Regions from separate parts of the Homo sapiens genome. Here region 1 is linked to region 2. The links come from fine-mapping of genetic effects on gene expression. A gene starts in region 2. The other region holds a variant in brackets. All regions are shown on one strand. Distances are between the middles of the regions. Region 1 overlaps RASGRP3 (RAS guanyl releasing protein 3). Region 2 holds the start of RASGRP3 (RAS guanyl releasing protein 3).

The links. PIP is the estimated chance that this variant, and not a neighbour inherited with it, causes the effect.
Region 1: its variant is the best candidate, but not a certain one, in a credible set for the expression of RASGRP3 in thyroid (GTEx, PIP 0.50).

The regions. Positions count from the first base shown.
Region 1 is chr2:33,520,768-33,526,148 of GRCh38, forward strand. It overlaps RASGRP3 (RAS guanyl releasing protein 3), which reads left to right. Exons shown (of 18, transcript NM_001139488.2): 7 at 1,188-1,335; 8 at 3,112-3,285; 9 at 3,665-3,781. Among named protein-coding and RNA genes, the nearest start is that of RASGRP3-AS1, 46 kb to the right of the region's middle. The variant A/G (reference allele first, on the strand shown) is at 3,079.
Region 2 is chr2:33,473,462-33,478,842 of GRCh38, forward strand. It overlaps RASGRP3 (RAS guanyl releasing protein 3), which reads left to right and starts at 3,188. Exons shown (of 18, transcript NM_001139488.2): 1 at 3,188-3,246. RefSeq lists an enhancer at 2,524-2,843.

The DNA of each region.
Region 1 (5,381 bases), 47 kb after region 2:
CCATCCCACTCCTGAATCCAGGTTTGCTTCTGTGAGGAAAGCCTTGCTGCAGTGAGCGCAAGCCGTATGGGACACAGCTCATCTCTCCAAGCTTCAGTTTTTTTTATTTGTAAAATGTGGACGATACCTTTCTCATGAGATTATTATGAACATTCAATAAGGACACAAGATAGCACATGAAAGGATTTGGCATGCAATAGATGCTCAGTGTTAGTTACTGAGTCTGAATCTACTTAATGTCTCTTACACCTTCACTGATTAAAGTGTGGTCTGCAGACCAGCAGCATTGGCGTTACCTGGGAGCTCATTAGGAATGCAGCCTCTAGGCCCCACCTTAAACCTGAATTGGAATCTGCACTTTAAAGATCCCCAAGTGATTCACATGCAAGCTTGAGAAGCTCTGTACCATGGTGCTGCTGAGGTTGGCCTCAGAACAACAGCCTTATGGTGGTTGACCATAGATGTGCCAGGAGCTGGTTAGCTCAGTTATTAGGTAACCGGTGCAATTAGGCCACTTTCATATCAACTAGGTAACTTTGCACAGGGAAGACTATTTGATGATCCTAAATATGGCTATCCATCTTGCAAATGTCTGTTCTTGTGTGTTACGTATTCATAGTCTACTCTGTTTTCCACTGTCGATTACTATTGAATACTTCTTCAATAGTAATCAATAGTGAATGATCCAGGAATTATAAGGGATGTTTGGTGAAAATACATATTATTCAGGATCATTCCTAATAAGTCAGAACCTCTGGCAGCGAGGCCCAGGCCTCTGTCTTTATAACAAGCTTTTCAGATAGTTCATGTTATACTAAAGTATGAGAACCACAGCTTCTAGTGGTTTCCATGTGTCTTAAATCACCACCTATATCCTGATAAACTCCCAAATTTATATACTAGCCCCGACCTTTCCTGTATGATCCAGACCTTGCCGGTCACAAAGACACTAAGTAAGAAATTCTGGATGGTTCAGTGCAAAACCTACCCTGTCTGGAAAAACAACTGCAAGTTTATGTTCTGTTGGCAACTGGTCAGTGGTTTTCTCTTCCAATATGAAAGACAGGGCATGTATTTTGCACAAGTCCCTGGAAGCAAGCCAAGAGTTGCAGAGTCAGTAGGTTAATAACTTCCATTGAGTGAAATGGGCTTTCAACACATTGACCGGACTCACTCTTCTTTTATAGTCCTTCCTATGACTGGATGAGAAGAGTCACACAGAGGAAAAAAGTATCCAAGAAGGGAAAAGCCTGTCTGCTGTTTGACCATCTGGAGCCCATTGAATTGGCTGAGCACCTCACTTTTCTGGAGCATAAATCTTTTAGAAGGATCTCAGTAAGAAACTTGACATTTATTCTTCCAAGGATAACAACCACCATGCCAACTTTCCCAAGAGCTGCATTTTCATACTCTGAAGTGTTGGCAGCTTCTATCACTGTGCTCTGCTGGAGAAGTGCCCTTAATTCACAGGAACAATCCCTTTTAACCAAAGATAAATATTATCCTGTCTTTATTTTATGGCTCAGGAGCTATATTTCTGTCGCTATTTTCAATGTCTCCTTTCATAGGATTAAAGCGTGATTTTTCTAAACAGTCAGTGGAGATTTAACCATTCAAGGTTGATTTAGCTCCATTGACTTCTCCCAAGTGAACATGTTTTGCTAGGCCCTTCGTTTTTGGGAAAAAATATTTAGTTAGGTTCGGATTTGTATAAATGGCTAATTATGGGTATAGGTTGAAAATAGGAATTGTAGACTTTAAGGAGAATCTCAACATCAGGTTGTTTCTTTCCCAGAGATAGAGATCCTGAATTAAACTTTTCTTTCCTACTCATCTTGATGGAGCCTCATTCCTTCTCTAACTCCCCCTTTTCTTTCTCTGGTCTGTGATTTCTTAGCCTCCTGCTCTCTCTCCTCCCGTTATGGTAAACATTTTCCACACTGGTTCACAATCAGCCAGCCACTTTGCTTTGTCTCGCCAAGCTGTGGGGAAGTCGCTCCTCCTCCTTTTCCAAGGTGTCAGAGAATGAATTACATTATTGCGTGCAAAGAAGACTGTCTTGGTTAGAAGCATGAATTTCTGAAAGACTGATTCTTTCACTAAGTAATCCTACTTGGAGAGGACCTTAACAATTCCCCACAGGCAGGCCATGGGAGTCCCCTGCACAGTTTATATGATAGAAAGCTCTTATGTATTTTTTGACATCCATGCTAACATTCTGAAAATGTGTTTGCCTTGCTAAAGAGCAGCCTTACTTCAATTAATTTTTTTTCTTCTGTCTTCTTTTTCTTGAAACAACTTTACAACTGATGCTAACTTGAAATAATTATATTTACGTTCATTTCCTCGTCTTTATTGTATACCGTTATATCTTTAACTTGCCTGATTGGAATCACCAGCAGTGTGTTAAAAATGGAGATTCTTGGCCGGGCGCGCCTTTAATCCCAGCACTTTGGGAGGCCAAGGTGGGCAGATCATGAGGTCAAGAGATCGAGACCTTCCTGGCCAACGTGGTGAAACCCCATCTCTACTAAAAATACTAAAAAATTTAGCCAGGTGTGGCAGCTTGCACCTGTAGTCCCAGCTACTCAGGAGGCTGAGGCAGGAGAATTGCTTGAACCTGGGAGGCGGAGATTGCAGTGAGCCGAGATCGCGCCACTGCACTCCAGCCTGGCAATAGAGCGACAGTCGGTTAAAAAAAAAAAAAAAAGGAGATTCTTAGGTTTTTCTTCTGAAGATAGTGATCATTTACACCTAGAGTGTTCCCAGGAACCAGCATTTTACCAAGTGCCACAGGTGAATCTTATCACCTAGTAAATTTTGAACTCATTGGAATACAACTTTGAATCTTGCCTCTTTCTCCTCCCACCAAAGCTGTGATGTGTAGTAGTGGGTGTCTTTGCGTGGGGTGAGTAGTGGGGTTTGAAAAGCAGCAAAATAACATTTTAAAGACACATGTATATTCAAACTTTTAGGATGCCATTGTAAATGTGAAATAAAAGAAATTGTGTTGTTACGAAACAATATCTCACCTTTTCTATGCAATATTCTAATTTTTGATTTTACAAAGGCTCTATT[A/G]TAATTCAGAGTCTCTGAATCTTCCTTTCCTAGTTCACTGATTACCAAAGCTATGTCATCCATGGCTGCCTGGAGAATAATCCAACCTTGGAAAGATCGATTGCTTTATTTAATGGAATCTCTAAGTGGGTCCAGTTGATGGTTCTTAGCAAACCAACCCCCCAGCAAAGGGCAGAAGTCATCACAAAGTTTATCAATGTTGCAAAGGTATGTCTGGTAATCAGACTGGGTTCTTGAGTTCTAGATGTTCGTTCACTCTGTTGAGAAAAGTCATTGAGGAAATGTGGCGTTCACAGTATAAGGGCATCGGACAACTAAACTACTCGCTGATATCTAATGAACAAATCGTATTTTTGTCATGCAAGAAGATTGCTTTCAGAAAGCAATGCTTAGAAGCATTTAATGTAGCTATTTCTCTGTGAAATAATAGATATATTTCTCTGATTCTATTTGTGCTTCATTTTAAATTGATGTAATGTTTTCCTTAGCTTCTTGTTATTAAAATTGTGCATAAATTTACTTGTAATTCAGAAAGTTTAGAATAATTTGAAAATCCTTAAAAAGCATTGATGCATTTTTATTGCAGAAGCTCCTTCAGCTCAAAAATTTTAACACCCTGATGGCAGTGGTGGGAGGCCTCAGTCATAGTTCCATTTCACGCCTCAAAGAGACCCATTCTCATCTTTCTTCAGAAGTTACAAAGGTATAGTAGACTTGATCCTAATCAAAAGTAAAAAAATGCATTTGTAAATTGTTCAGGTTTAGTATACGCCTAACAAATGTCACTCAGAGTGGGAAAGTTTTCCTCTTAAACCAGTGGTAGGTTATAAATGGGGACAAAGTAGAAAGGGAATAACCACACCAGCTGAGTCCACCTGGAAAAACAGGTTGGAGGTGGTGGTAAGTGTCCTAGGAAGAATGCTTTGACATACCATTAGAATACTGTAGTGGTGGCCGGGCACGGTGGCTCACACCTGTAATCCCAGTACTTTGGGAGGCTGAGGCGGGCGGATCACAAGGTCAGGAGATCTATACCATCCTGGCTAACGTGGTGAAACCCCGTCTCTACTAAAAATACAAAAAAAATTAGCCGGGTGTGGTGGCAGGCACCTGTAGTCCCAGTTACTGGGGAGGCTGAGGCAGGAGAATGGCATGAACCTGGGAGGCAGAGCTTGCAGTGAGCCGAGATCACCCCACTGCACTCCAACCTGGGCGATAGAGCGAGACTCCATCTCAAAAAAAAAAAAACCAAAAAAAAAAAAAAAAACTCAACATATTGTAGTGGTAAATATTCAACAGGTATCTATTTGGTCCTACTATGTGATAGGCATTGTGATACACAAGGTAAATAAGACAGAAATAGTTCCTACCCTACCTCCTGAAATAAAGTCATTGAATGACTATTCATAACACTGTGTTGGGCACATCAGAAGATAGAAAGGGGAAGACATAGGCCTTGTATAGAAATCCTCAGATTTATAACTGAATTGTCATGAATATATATATATATATTAGAAACAGTGATCATTTTCCAAACTGAGCGTTTCTGCCACATTTATTTTCATGACATGATAGTTGTTTTTCTTCTTGAGCAAAAAGGAGCATTTCATCCTTATGAAAAGATTCTCATATAAGAGTGCACTTTGCTACTTCAATAAGGACACTTTTAGCTGTGAGTTTAAAAGAAAAAGAAAAAAACTTCTACAGCAATTAAACAATAAGCAAATGTATCGTCCATCAGGCGTGGTGGCTCACACCTGTAATCTCAGCACTTTGGGAGGTGGAGGTGGGAGGATTGCTTGAAGCCAGGAGTTCGACACCAGCCTGGGTAACATAGCTAGATCCTGTCTCTACAAAAAAAAAAAAAAAAAAAAAAAAAAAACTAGCCAGGTGTGGCAGTGTGTGCCTGTAGTCCCAGCTATTTGGGAGGCTGAGGTGGAATGATCACTTGAGCCCAGGAGTTTGAGGCTGCAGTGAGCCAGGATCATACCACTGCACTCCAGCCTGGGGGACATACCTGGAAGTCCAGAGACAGAGCAGGCACGGTCTGATCAGACCTCTGACTCAGGTGCTCCGCCCGCCTCTGAATATCGGAGAGTTTTGTTTTTTTGTTTGTTTCATCAAACTGTTTCTCTCCTAATTGGGCTGTATGTAGCAACCGAAAAATTACGTTCCCTTGTTCATGAAAGTTGAAGATAGGGAAGACTACTCACTTCAACTCTTCACCCATAGAATTAAAGACCTTTTGAGCCAACTCAGGTCTTAGGTCCATCCCTGGACCAATAACAGTTGCCAGAGTAATA
Region 2 (5,381 bases):
AGCGCACGCTGAGAGCAAGAGAAGGCGTGGTTGTTGTCGAGAGTCCTAAGCAGGTGGGAGACACAGGGTGAGACACAAAGCCGAGGTAGGAGGTGGCCTCTTGACAGGAAGAGGGCACCTCTTCTTGAGTCGAAGACAATGCTTGGAACTGGTAGGGAGTGTGGGCAGAAAGATGGGATCTCCCCCATTTCTTTGCAAGGCTGTGTTATTGTAGAACCTTTAGTCACACTCCTGGACTCTGACTGAAAGGGTCCTGGGTCTTGGCCTCTGTGTTAACAGTTTGCTTCATAGGGAGGATTGAGGATCCATCCCTTCCTCTCCTGGCTATAGAACTAGAAAAGAACCTCTACACCAGTGGTCCCTAATGTATTTGGCACCAGGGACCAGTTTCATGGAAGACAATTTTTCCATGGACCGGGAATGAGGGGATGGAGATGATTTCAGGATGAAACTGTTCCACCTCAGATCATCAGGCATTAGACTCTCATAAGGAGCATGCAGTGTAGATCCCTCGCGTGCACAGTTCACAATAGTGTTCATGCTCCTATGGGAATCTAATGCCACAGCTGATCTGACAGGAGGCAGAGCTCAGATGGTCATGCTCCCTTGACTGCTGCTCACCTCCTGCTGTGCAGCCTGGCCTCTAACAGACCATGGACAGGTACCTGTCCATGGCATGGGGGCTGGGGACTCCTGCTTTACACTTATGATGTAGTTTGGATGTTGTGCCCACCCAAATCTCATGTTGAGATGTAATTTCCAGTGTTGGAGGTGGAGCCTGGTGGGAAGTGATTGGATCTTAGGGGCAGATTTCTCATTAATGGTTTGGTACCATCCTGTTAGTGCTGTTCTCATGATAGTGAGTGAGTTCTTTTATTTATTTGTTTATTTTAAGACAGAGTCTCACTCTGTTGCCCAGGCTGGAGTGCAGTGCAGTGGTGCGGTCTTGATCTTGGCTCACTGCAACCTCTGCCTCCCAGGTTCAAGCACACCACCACGCCCGGCTAATTTTTGTATTTTTAGTAGAGACAGGGTTTTGCCATGTTGGCCAGGCTGGTCTCAAACTCCTGACCTCAGGTGATTCACCCTCCTCAGCCTCCCAAAGTGCTGGGATTATAGGCATGAGCCACAACACCCAGCTGATAGTGAGTTCTGGCAAGCGCTGGTCATTTAGAAGTGCCCCCTGTCTGTCTTGCTGCTGCTCTGGCCATGTGACTCATCTGCTCCCACTTTGCCTTCCACCATGATTGTAAGTTTCACGAGGCCTCCCCAGAAGCCGAACAGATGCCAGTATCATGCTTCCTCCATAGCCTGCAGAACCATGAACCAATTAAACCTCTTTTCTTTATAAATTACCCAGTCTCAAGTATTTATAGCAATGCAAGAATGGACTAATACAACTTAACTTTCCTGAGGCTGTTGTCGCTGTTGGGCATTGAAGAGTTTCTAGAAGTCCCTGTTTCTTTATGTGGCATGCAATGGATCATCAGAATAATTAACCCAGTCAATGGTAAACAAAGTGATGGATGGATGCCATCAGATCACAAAAGTTTCTATTACTGTAAATACAAGGGGGTAAGTAAATCAAAATAATGTTTCAAATCCTCAGTAGGCCTCTTTTTCTGTTTCTAATTGAAGATTGTCACATCAACACATAAACAAAAATGCCTGTGAGGGAAATGTGTATTTTATGCATTGCATTTTTATATCTGAAGTTTATTTCTATTACTAACTTGAAATGCTGAGGAAGGGATTTGTTTTGGTGCTTACAAAATTCTCCCATTTGCTCTTCGGACTCTCACAAGTTGACAACAAATTACTGCCCTGATAGTATGGTGAGACTGAGGGTTTTTTGTCTTTTTCTCTTATTCTAGAAAACACTGTATCCTCTATATGGAGGGAAATTTCTGGTTTGATTAACACTGTAAATAATTATGAGACAAAGCCTAAATATAAAAGATTACTCACACAGGCTCTTACACTGAGTAAGATATTATGTGTTAAAAATCAGGGTTAATAGTTTAACAGGCACATTATGGTTCAGAAATCCCCTGGGGGACTTCAACCATCTTTTCTGGATGTTCACTTTGCCAAATAGGCTGCCTCTATGTCATATCTCTACCTGAAGGGCAGGCTCAGACACTGATTCGGGGAAGTGTCACCCTTACTATACCAAGAAGTCAGACATCCAAGGTCAGACACTACGTAAAGTCAGATACTTCAAGGGCTTTCCTTGGAAGGGAGGATGAAAAGGGAAGGGTGGGAACATCAGCTCAGGTGAGACATATGAATTCAACAAAACATCAGGGATGGTTTGCCACGTTTGCGAGCAGCACAGAAAACGGCAGTTTGCTCCAAGTTCCCAGCACACCAAAGGGGGCAGTAGTGCGTCTGTAAAGCGCGTTGTCAACTTGGTGATAATTTCTGTTTGCATTCACACTCGCCGGCTGATAATCTCAGCTGCTCGATGCAATTCAACAGATAACAATGCGGAAGTTTGGTCTAAAGCTACCTGAAATCACTTCCAAGAGCTCTTCAGATAAAGCTGCCTTTGATAGTCTTCATTAACCCCTCCCATATTTGCCCCTCAGCGTCCCTTGGCTTAGCAGCCCCGGCCTTTGAAGTCCAACCTAAGCATTCTTAGATGGTGAGTGAGGGTCTGCCTTCCCCAGCACCAGCCACCTAGTCAGGCTTGTGGCTCGTCTAACAAACTGGAGCCTGAGATTCTGAGAAAACGAAACCAAACAGTTGTACTCCGGGGTTAACACAGAGCAACTTCCACCTGCTGTGCGAGTTGGTGATCCTCTCTCTTGCCGTTCGAGAGCCCCAGTGAAACTTGAGTGAGATGAGAGAGCATGGAGCCTGCCAGTCTCCCCCTCTGCGCACACACACACGCAAACACATTTAACTTTCCACTTGCAGTGACCTGCCCTTCAGTGTGACTTATCAGCTGTTTGGCTTTTGTCACTAAAGGAAAACAAATTGTGGAATATCCCGCTCTGCATGCTCATGAGATGGCTGAGCCAACTCAGGGGTTATGAGGTGGTTTGCGAGTGAGGAGAAGAATGATCTTCAGTTTCTGACCTCCTGGCACGGTGGCGGGCGGTATTTATCAGGAGGTACATGTGACTGGTTAAGACTCAGAGCCCCAGCTTGAAGGAAACAGCTGCTCTCGGCGTGCTCCGGCACTTGGCAGCTGGACAGGCAGAGTGCTGATGTGAAAAATACCACGACAAAACCACCCTAGTAAGTAACTGGAGAACTTTCCTCTCTCTCTCTCTCTTTCATTCCCTCTCCGTGTGTGTGTGTGTGTGTGTGTGTGTGTGTGTGTGTGTTGCAAGCCACCAACAACTTTTGATTTTGATTTTGGTTTCCCTCTGGCACGATAGAAGGAGATATTTTATTTGTACCTGTTAACAGCCATTGGTGTTTTCACAGCCCTTTTTTAGAACCTGTTATTTTCGGCAACGTGTCTTGTAACTTTGAGGATGAATGGGGCATATGGCTTCATTCCTGTCTAGGAAACAGAAAGTTTGTTTCCCAGTGTTCAAGATTTTTCTAGTCCATGGTGTTTAGGTTCAAAGTCAAGTTCAGGTTATGAAGTAGAGACTTCATTGAAGTGAGTTGATGACTAGATTTGATTTTAATCTGTTTCTACCACTGAAACCTGAAAACGTAGTTGTTTAAAGTAACTTGTGAATTTATTGTATGGCTGATTTGATTTTTCCTATTCAATTTTTGAGAATATCTCATTTAACTGTGTAGAACTGTCTGCAATATAGAAGACTGACAAAATAATATTTAGATTCACATTAGAAATCATATTTAGATTTCTTGCATGGTTTCCAACTAATTGAAAGCTGTATTTTATAGCGACTTTTTTTCCCCCCAACAAGCTAATTCACCTTCATTACTTTAAAATGTTCAGTTGCCCCTGGTCTTCCTTCACCTTCATTACTTTAAAATGTTCGGTTGCCGCTGGTCTTCCTTATTTTAGTGTTTTCGTGATACTCAGGCTGTTTTTTCCTTGTTTATGACCTGACTGGGAAAGTGCTGCCTGCAGCTGATGATTAACTCTGGGAGGCCTGGCATCCAAATTACGGAGAGAACCGGCTCCTTCTCAGGTTCATTCAGCAGTAATGGTGCTTGCGCTTGGGCGAGCAGCAAAGCAGGCACCATGCTGGAACTGAGCTGTTGTTCGGTGACTTTTGTCCTTCCTTGGTAGTCACCAGACAGAATGCTTCAGAGGAAAGGCAAAAGGGGAAAAGAGAGAGGGCAGAGCTCTAAACTGATGACGTAAAGCTCTGAAAGTGACAGGTCTTTGAATCAGAGGCTGCAGGGAGATAACCAAACAGGTTCCTGTTTCTGGAGATCGCGTGGATCTTGAGGAGGGTGGGCAGAGAGGGGCTGTTTTTATTTGAAGTCTCACCAAATAGTTGTTTTGCTTGTGATAAGCCTAGGACAACCTGGAGTGCGCTTGTTTCCTCGTGTGACAAATGGATTCTCATACAGGCTCAAGCTATACGGTTTTCTTTCGCCCTCTGCCCCCTGCCATGAGGGAACACTGTTCTCTCCCCACCCTTACCATCCTTTGTTGTTTGTGGAGAATGGATTAAAAATGACCCAGGGCACGGCACTTCTGCGATCGAGTTTCCCTCAGCACAGTGGGTCTTGAGTACCGCACCAACCAATGTTCTCTGATGGAAGCAGTTTCGGATGCCCTGTCTAAACAAATGGCTAGTCTGACATTGAGAAGTTCTCCACCTTCTTTTCCTTCAAATGTAGAAGAATCCACAAAATGTAGAGTGGCCAATGAGGAAAAATAGTCCCAACTTCTCTGTTCCTCGGTATGGCATTTGTGTGAGGTCCTTGGGTCAGCCCGCGGCCATGTGGTCTGTGACTTCCCTGTCTGACTGCTGGGGGAGGGGGTTCCTCCTGAGTCATTCTTTAGGGAGTTTGTTCCTGGTATAGTTTCAGATTTTCCACAGGTTGATAGTGGAAGAGAACCCTCTGGTGAAATTGTGTCTCCGGAATCATCGAGCCTCCCATAATAAAATGGAATGTCTAAATGGGAGCAGTTGAATTATCCAACTGCTGTATTTTTGAGAGCCAACAGGCTCCTTTGAAAAACCCATGCCTTTTCAAAATATTAATAGCAAAATAATAAAAAATAATGATTTTACTTGCAGATAGTACATCCATTGACTCAAAGACTTTTTGACCTGGATAGGAATGATAGAATGTGCGATTTAACTCTTTCGTATCAAAGATGAGGAAACTGTAGCAAATTTATCGGAGTTACGGTGCAGAGCCAGAAGAGAGAGCTCAAGGCTTCCATCATAATTTCAACGCTAATAACAATCCCTTACTTTTATTGTGCA